2 linked regions of the Homo sapiens genome follow. The protein of the gene in region 1 purifies or fractionates together with the protein of each later gene. This does not show direct contact. Each region holds a gene or a part of one and is shown in the gene's direction. Other genes may lie near its edges. The genes, in order: EIF4E3 and THEMIS2.

What was found.
Region 2: the proteins of EIF4E3 (region 1) and THEMIS2 purify together in Homo sapiens (affinity purification with mass spectrometry; 3 studies listed by BioGRID and IntAct, with this or other methods). This does not show direct contact.

The regions. Positions count from the first base shown.
Region 1 is NC_000003.12:71,687,098-71,690,913, reverse strand, and holds part of EIF4E3 (eukaryotic translation initiation factor 4E type 3), read left to right. Parts: intron 1-748; coding exon 749-904; intron 905-3,816. UniProt on the Homo sapiens protein: Recognizes and binds the 7-methylguanosine-containing mRNA cap during an early step in the initiation of protein synthesis. May act as an inhibitor of EIF4E1 activity.
Region 2 is NC_000001.11:27,878,811-27,882,626, forward strand, and holds part of THEMIS2 (protein THEMIS2), read left to right. Parts: intron 1-833; coding exon 834-1,244; intron 1,245-3,160; coding exon 3,161-3,816. UniProt on the Homo sapiens protein: May constitute a control point in macrophage inflammatory response, promoting LPS-induced TLR4-mediated TNF production. Determines the threshold for activation of B cells by low-affinity and low-avidity ligands via PLCG2 activation and its downstream pathways.

The DNA.
Region 1 (3,816 bases):
AATGCCTTAACGTTCATTCATTGAAGGACGATCCTATAATAGCAGAGCTGTACTCAGAAGATTTTACTCTCACTCTATACACAGTGCTAACAGATGGTCATTGGCTCTCTAGCCCACAGTATATAATGCCCAAAACCAGAAAAGGGATTTCTAGAGGGAGGCATCAGGAAGCAGGAAGAATTCATAGGAAAGGAGCAGACAAGTAAACCGCAGAAAGCAGATGAGCAGTCGAGAATGCACAATCTGGCTCCAGTTCGTGTTGGGGCAGATAGCGCTGACCACTCCAAGGTCCCTGAAAGCTTGGCAGGAAGTCAGGAGAAATTCTTGCTCTCCTTAACAAAGACAGCAAGGCATCAAGGAAAAGTTCATTTCAGTTCACTTGGCTTTCAGAGGGCAGGGAATTATGCAACCCATTTTAGAAAAAGTCTCATCAAAACAGAGTAAGAAATAGTCACAAAGCTTTGGTAATGTTAAAAAGGGTAAATTACTTATCTGGAAAATGCATTTGGCTGGAACACTTTATCTAAGTCCCTGGATAAATGTGATGTGACTGCTACAGCTTTTGTGCACTGACTTGCTTTCCTCCAGTGATTCCCCATAGAAACAATTATTTCTTACAAGTTATCTTGTGCCACCTTCTTTTTTCCATCTTATCCTTAATTTTCAGATAAAAAGACTAAGTTCTTAGAAACAGTCAGACTGACTTGGAAGTATCACTCATTTTTTTTTTTTCCTGTCTTCCCCTCAGATGATGAAGTAATAGGAGTTAGTGTCAGTGTTCGGGACCGAGAAGACGTCGTCCAAGTCTGGAATGTAAATGCCTCTTTAGTGGGTGAAGCGACTGTTTTAGAAAAGATCTATGAACTTCTGCCCCACATAACTTTTAAAGCAGTATTTTATAAACGTAAGTGCTTCATTTCCAGTTATTACTTTCTAGCTTACTCTATCATACTTTTAAAGATAGAAACTGTTTTGCAAATGTGGTGAAGGCAGATTTACTTGAAATTTGATAATTCAGAAAATAATTCAACAAAATACATTTAAGTTTTTTTTTTTTTTAAAAAAAACAAGCTTAGTCTCAGAAATTAAAGTAAGATTTTATTCTTGCCTAACTGCGTGGATCAGAAAACGAAATAACAAATATTGTATTTGTTATTTCAAAAATTTGTACCTGAACTCAAATTTGTAATTCTCAGAAAAAAAATTACATTCTATTGGAAACAACAATAACAAAAATGTCATTATATGAACTGGCAGGTAGATATTCAATCATCCCTTCATAAACAGGAATTTATAATGTATAACATCTGTATTTGCAGAAGAAATGCATTCTGAGCACAGGCGTGATTGAATGTTCTACTGAAATGCTAATACTTCCTCATTATGAATGACTATGACACAGAACTGAGGGAGAATTCACGCCTAGTGGTGAAATGTTAACAGTATGAATAGGTGTGTGGACCCATTGTTTTCCATCATGATTCATTTTCATTGCTTTTGTGTGCTCTTTTGAAAAAGTCTTCTTTTTCATAATGAAAACATCTTAGTGCTATTAAACCAATGTTTGGTAGATCAGACTGCAGGTCACACATTTAACAGAGTTAGAGAAAAGGACGACAGCCCTACACATGTATGATAAATTTCCTATATCCAAAACTGTTCCTGGAGTCAGTAACCCATTTTTTAACTACCGTATTTCATTGAATCTAAGATGCTCTTGAAGATAAAATGCTCCATTATTTTAGTATTACTGAAAAAGAAAAATAAAAGGCTCCCAATTAAACTGTAACACATTATTGGTACCAGAGGTCTTCAAATATATGTGTGGTAGTTGTGAGGAGTGCGTCTTAGAATTGCTGAAATACATTTCATTATTGCTTCACTTTTTCCAACTCTTTGCCAAAAAAGGATAAAAAAATCAAATTTTGTTTTGTGAGTATCCTAGTATGACAGGGGATATTAACACTAAGGCCTCCCTGTAAGGAATCATATAATTACAGGCCAAATGACCTAGATGTTAAGCAGTGGGACTGATCTGGCACTACAGATATTCTGAATTTTAAATGGAAGTTTAAAAGAGACAGAAAAATGGCACTGCAGAAGTTGCTTATTGGCTGCGTGGTGTAGAAGTTGCCAATTTGCCGATGCCATTTTTATTCTTTAGGGATACTTTAATTGTATTTTCACCCCAGATATTAATTGAAAGGTCATCAAGGGTTTTTTCTTTTTTTTTATTTCACAAGACTAGCAGAAACTCTATAGACGGAAGTGTATTTCATTGGCATTTATGTATGGGGCTAAAACATTTTTTCCCACCTTTGAACCAGCTCCACACTTGACTCTAAAGAGGAGAACACCAATTTGGGGTCGTTAAGTCAGGCACTTTAGGTTTTTGTCCCACTTCACCAGTGTGACCTTGAGCAAGTCACAACTTCTCATCCTTTACCTTTCTCATCTGAGTATCGAGGAGGTTGGTCTTAGATGATCTCCAAGGTTCCTTCTACTGCAAAATTCTATGATTAAGTTTCCAGGTAGCACATTGGTTAGCAGCAGGCTCAACACAGATAATAAGATATCTGTTTTATCAGATAATAAGGCCACAAAGTGGTTAGGCTAGTTTTTAGGGCCATGGCAATAATCAGATAAGATTGTCAAAGGGCAGGATGATTCACTGCTTAGCTGTTGTGATGGCTCTGGGAAAGAAAAAAGCCAAACAAGGGGAAAGAAAACTGCAACTTGGCCAGTTAAATCAAATAGATACCTAAAGGTAGGGGCCATTGCAAAGTATGTAATACAGAACTGAGGAAGGGTCTCAGCAGAAATTCATACTTTAAGGGCATAAATTGGCATTTAAAAACTCAAAGATTGTTCAAATAAAAATCTGAATTTGAAAAAAAACAAGCAGTTTTCTTTATTGTAAACAAAGCAGGCAGTCCTTTACTCAGCAGGGTATACACTACTTGCTGCAGAAGTAATTTGGAAAAATAAGATTTGGGCTGAAATCTTTTTCACAGCAGGGTAAGCTAAGTTAGAAATGGCCAATGTATGCTTTTACTCTGGTTTGGTTAATAGGATCCTAGTGTAAGTATTCCCAAGTTTACATAAGCCAGGTGACTGTAGATTTTCCATGTAGAAAGAACCCAAGCATATTCAGTCATGGCCTCTAGCGGGTAGATGGGCATTGGGCCATTGATAACTTACATTTGATATGGATACACATTATTTGACTGAGAAACTCACAATGCACAGACTCCACTCACTGACCAGCCCCACCCTGGCCAATTCTGCTAAGTTCTTCAGAACAGCTGAGTGACAAAGGTCTTTTCTGGTGTGAGAATTGTTTACAGCAGGAAGCTGGAGCCCAAATCTGCCCTCTGTGTTACCCTCTCCGCTCTCCTGTTTCTGTATAGGTATAGCTGAGAATGCTTTTTACATTTTTCAGTGGTTGGAAAAAAAAGAAAAAGTATATTTTGTAACACATGAAAATTATATGAATATCAAATTTTAGTGTCCATAAATAAAGTTTTATCAGCATAGAGCAATACCCATTTGTTTCCGTATTACCTATAGCTGCTTTAGTGCTACAATGGCAGAGTTAGTAATTGATACAGAGGTCAGGCATGGTGGCTCACGCCTGTAATCCCAGCACTTTGGGAGGCCGAGGCAGGCAGATCATCTGAGGTCAGGAGTTAAAGACCAGCCTGGCCAACATGGCGAAACCCCATCTCTACTAAAAATATAAAAAGCTAGCCAGGCGTGGTGGCAGGTGCCTATAATCCCAGCTACTTGGGAGACTGAGGCAGGAGAATTGTTTGA
Region 2 (3,816 bases), on another chromosome or scaffold:
AATATGCTTTATAGCAGTTTTTCCCCTCAATCCAGAGTCCAGTCCTAGATCACACATCATATTCAGTTGTCCTGTTTCTTCATTCTCCTTCAGACTGGAACAGTTCCTCTGCCTTTGTCTTGACATTGACATTTTGAAGCATCTGGACCAGTACTTATGTAGAATATCCCTCAGTCCCAGCTTGTGCAGTGTTTCCTCGATTAGCTTCAGGTTGTGGGTTTGGGGCAGGAAAAGCTTGCTTCCCAAAAGCGGTATCATGTCTGGAAGCGAGGTATTTAGGCCAGCTGCTGGCGGAATGGGTGGGGGCTGGAGGGAGGGGGTGCAGGGACAGTCGGGCAGTCACTATTGGCAGCCAGGATGCAGGGGTAAAGTGGGTGGTCTGAGGTGGCTCTGGCCAGCAGCTCCTGGGATGTTCGTTTGGGAGAGAGGGACGGCAGGTTTTGGATGAGTGGGATCGGACCTGTGGAGAGGCATCTGGAGGAAAGGCTAAGATGGCAGTTAGAGGCAGGTAGGGTCAGGAGCTTGGAGAGTGTGGAAGTCTAGTGTGTCTGTCAGGGAATGTGTCCCTCTTCCATTCTCTGTGTCTCTGGTGACAAGTCTCTCTCGGTTCCTACTTCCTGTCTCTCCCTGTCCCTTCATGCACTGCCACTTTCTGCCCTGTGTCCCTCAGCCCTGCAGCCCAGATGTCCAGATGCAAATCTGTCATTGACACCTGTCCCTGGGGGATTCTGGCTGGGTCATCTGCAGGGCCAGACTGGGGTCTGGACCTGACAAAGGCCTGCCCCACCCTGACACCCCACAGTGACCTGCCTGCTCTCTGCTGTCCCCCACAGGCTACTTCACCCCCCTCAACACCCCACAGAGCTATGAAACCCTGGAGGAGCTGGTCTCTGCCACAACTCAGAGCTCCAAGCAGCTGCCCACTTGCTTCATGTCGACCCACAGGATTGTCACAGAGGGCAGGGTGGTGACTGAGGACCAGCTCCTCATGCTTGAGGCTGTGGTGATGCACCTCGGGATCCGCTCTGCCCGCTGTGTCCTGGGCATGGAGGGTCAGCAGGTCATCCTGCACCTGCCCCTATCCCAGAAGGGGCCCTTCTGGACATGGGAGCCTAGTGCCCCTCGAACTCTGCTCCAGGTCCTACAGGATCCAGCCCTGAAAGACCTCGTCCTCACCTGCCCCACCCTGCCCTGGCATTCCCTGATCCTGCGGCCCCAGTATGAGATCCAAGCCATCATGCACAGTGAGTTGCCTGGGCAGATGGATGCGCGCTGCTGGGGGAGAGAAAGAGGGTTGCCCCTGGGAGCTGCTCTGATGGAAGACACCCCCACCCCATCCCTGAGGATCAGCTGGAACTTCAGGTTGCTCCCTCTGTATTACACTGAAGTTATTCTTTTTTTTTGAGATGGAGTTTCGCTCTTGTTGCCCAAGCTGGAGTGCAATGGTGTGATCTTGGCTCACCCTCCAGAGTCAAGCGATTCTCCTGCCTCAGCCTCCCGAGTAGCTGGGATTACAGGCGTGCACCACCATGCCCGGCTAATTTTTTGTATTTTTAGTAGAAACGGAGTGTCACCATGTTAGCGAGGCAGGTCTTGAACTCCTGACCTCAGGTGGTCCACCCGCCTTGGCCTCCCAAAGTGCTGGGATTACAGGCGTGAGCCACCGTTCCTGGCCAGTTATTCTTATTGATGCTCAAATTATCTCGGCTACGCCAGGTGCAGTGGCTCACGCATGTAATACCAGCACTTTGGAGGATCGCTTGATCTCAGGTGTTCCAGACCAGACTAGGCAACATAGCAAGACCCCCATCTCTACAAAAATTTTTTTAAAAAATTAGCTAGGCTTAGTGCTTGTAGTAGCAGCTACTCTGGAGGCTGAGGCAGGAGGATCACTTGAGCCCAGGAGTTCAAGGTTGTAGTGAGCTATGATCACACCCTTGCACTCCAGCCTGGGCAACAGGGCGAGACCTCATCTCTCTCTTTTTTGAAGCAGAGTCTTGCTCTGTCACCCAGGCTGGAGTACAATGGTTGATCTCAGCTCACTGCAACCTCCATCTCCCAGGTTCAAGCGATTCTCTTGCCTCAGCCTCCCTAGTAGTTGGGATTATAGGCGCCCGCCACCATGCCCAGATAATTTTTTTGTATATTTAGTAGAGACAGGGTTTCGCCATATCGGCCAGGCTGGTCTGGAACTCCTGACCTCAGGTGATCTGCCCACCTCGGCCTCCCAGAGTGCTGGGATTACAGGCGTGAGCCACCGAGCACAGCCTAAAAATAATAATTTTAAAATTTATTTTTCTTTTTTCTTAATACTTGGAGGAAAAAAAATAAAAATAGTAATTTTTTTAAGAAGGTTGGGGCCAAGCACAGTGGCTCACGCCTGTAATCCTAGAACTTTGGGAGGCCGAGGCAGGTGGATCACGAGGTCAGGAGATCAAGACCATCCTGGCTAACATGGTGAAACCCCGTCTCTACTAAAAATACAAAAAAATTAGCCGGGTGTGGTGGCGGGCACCTGTAGTCCCAGCTACTTGGGAGGCTGAGGCAGGAGAATGGCGTGAACCCAGGGGCTAGAGCTTGCAGTGAGCCAAGATCGCACCACTGCACTCCAGCCTGAGCGACAAGAGCGAGACTCCATCTCAAAAAAAAAAAGAAGGTTGAAGGGAAAGCATGTGTGGGAATGTGGCGTAGTGTAAATTGGAAGATTCTGATTGGAAAGAAAAGATGGCAGCGGGGGCCGGGCGTGGTGGCTCATGCCTGTAATCCCAGCACTTTGGGAGGCCAAGGTGGGAGGATCACCTGAGGACAGGAGTTCGAGACCAGCCTGGCCAACATGGTGAAACCCCATCTCTACTAAAACTACAAAAATTAGCTGGGCATGGTGGCGGGCGCCTGTAATCCCAGCTACTCGGGAGGCTGAGGTGGAAGAACTGCTTGAATCTGGGAGGTGGAGGTTGCAGTGAGCCGAGACTGTGCCATTGCATTCCAGCCTGTGCGACAAGGGCACTCCATCTCGAGTGAAACTCCATCTCAAAAAAAAAAAAAGAAAGAAAAGACAGCAGCGGGAGGGAGGCCAGCCGGCCCAGCCAATGCTCTATGCCTGGGGTGGGGGCCACTCCTGGGGTGGCATGCAGTGCCACTGAGCTGCCCCTCTCCACAGTGCGCAGGACCATTGTCAAGATCCCTTCTACCCTGGAGGTCGACGTGGAGGACGTCACCGCCTCCTCCCGGCACGTCCACTTTATCAAACCGCTGCTGCTGAGCGAGGTCCTGGCCTGGGAAGGCCCTTTCCCCCTGTCCATGGAGATCCTGGAGGTTCCTGAGGGCCGCCCCATCTTCCTCAGCCCGTGGGTGGGCTCCTTGCAAAAAGGCCAGAGGCTTTGCGTCTATGGCCTAGCCTCACCACCCTGGCGGGTCCTGGCCTCAAGCAAGGGCCGCAAGGTGCCCAGGCACTTCCTGGTGTCAGGGGGCTACCAAGGCAAGCTGCGGCGGCGGCCAAGGGAGTTCCCCACGGCCTATGACCTCCTAGGTGCTTTCCAGCCAGGCCGGCCACTCCGGGTGGTGGCCACAAAGGACTGTGAGGGCGAGAGGGAGGAGAATCCCGAGTTCACGTCCCTGGCTGTGGGTGACCGGCTGGAGGTGCTGGGGCCTGGCCAGGCCCATGGGGCCCAGGGCAGTGACGTGGATGTCTTGGTTTGTCAGCGGCTGAGTGACCAGGCTGGGGAGGATGAGGAGGAAGAGTGCAAAGAGGAGGCAGAGAGCCCAGAGCGGGTCCTGCTGCCCTTCCACTTCCCTGGCAGTTTCGTGGAGGAGATG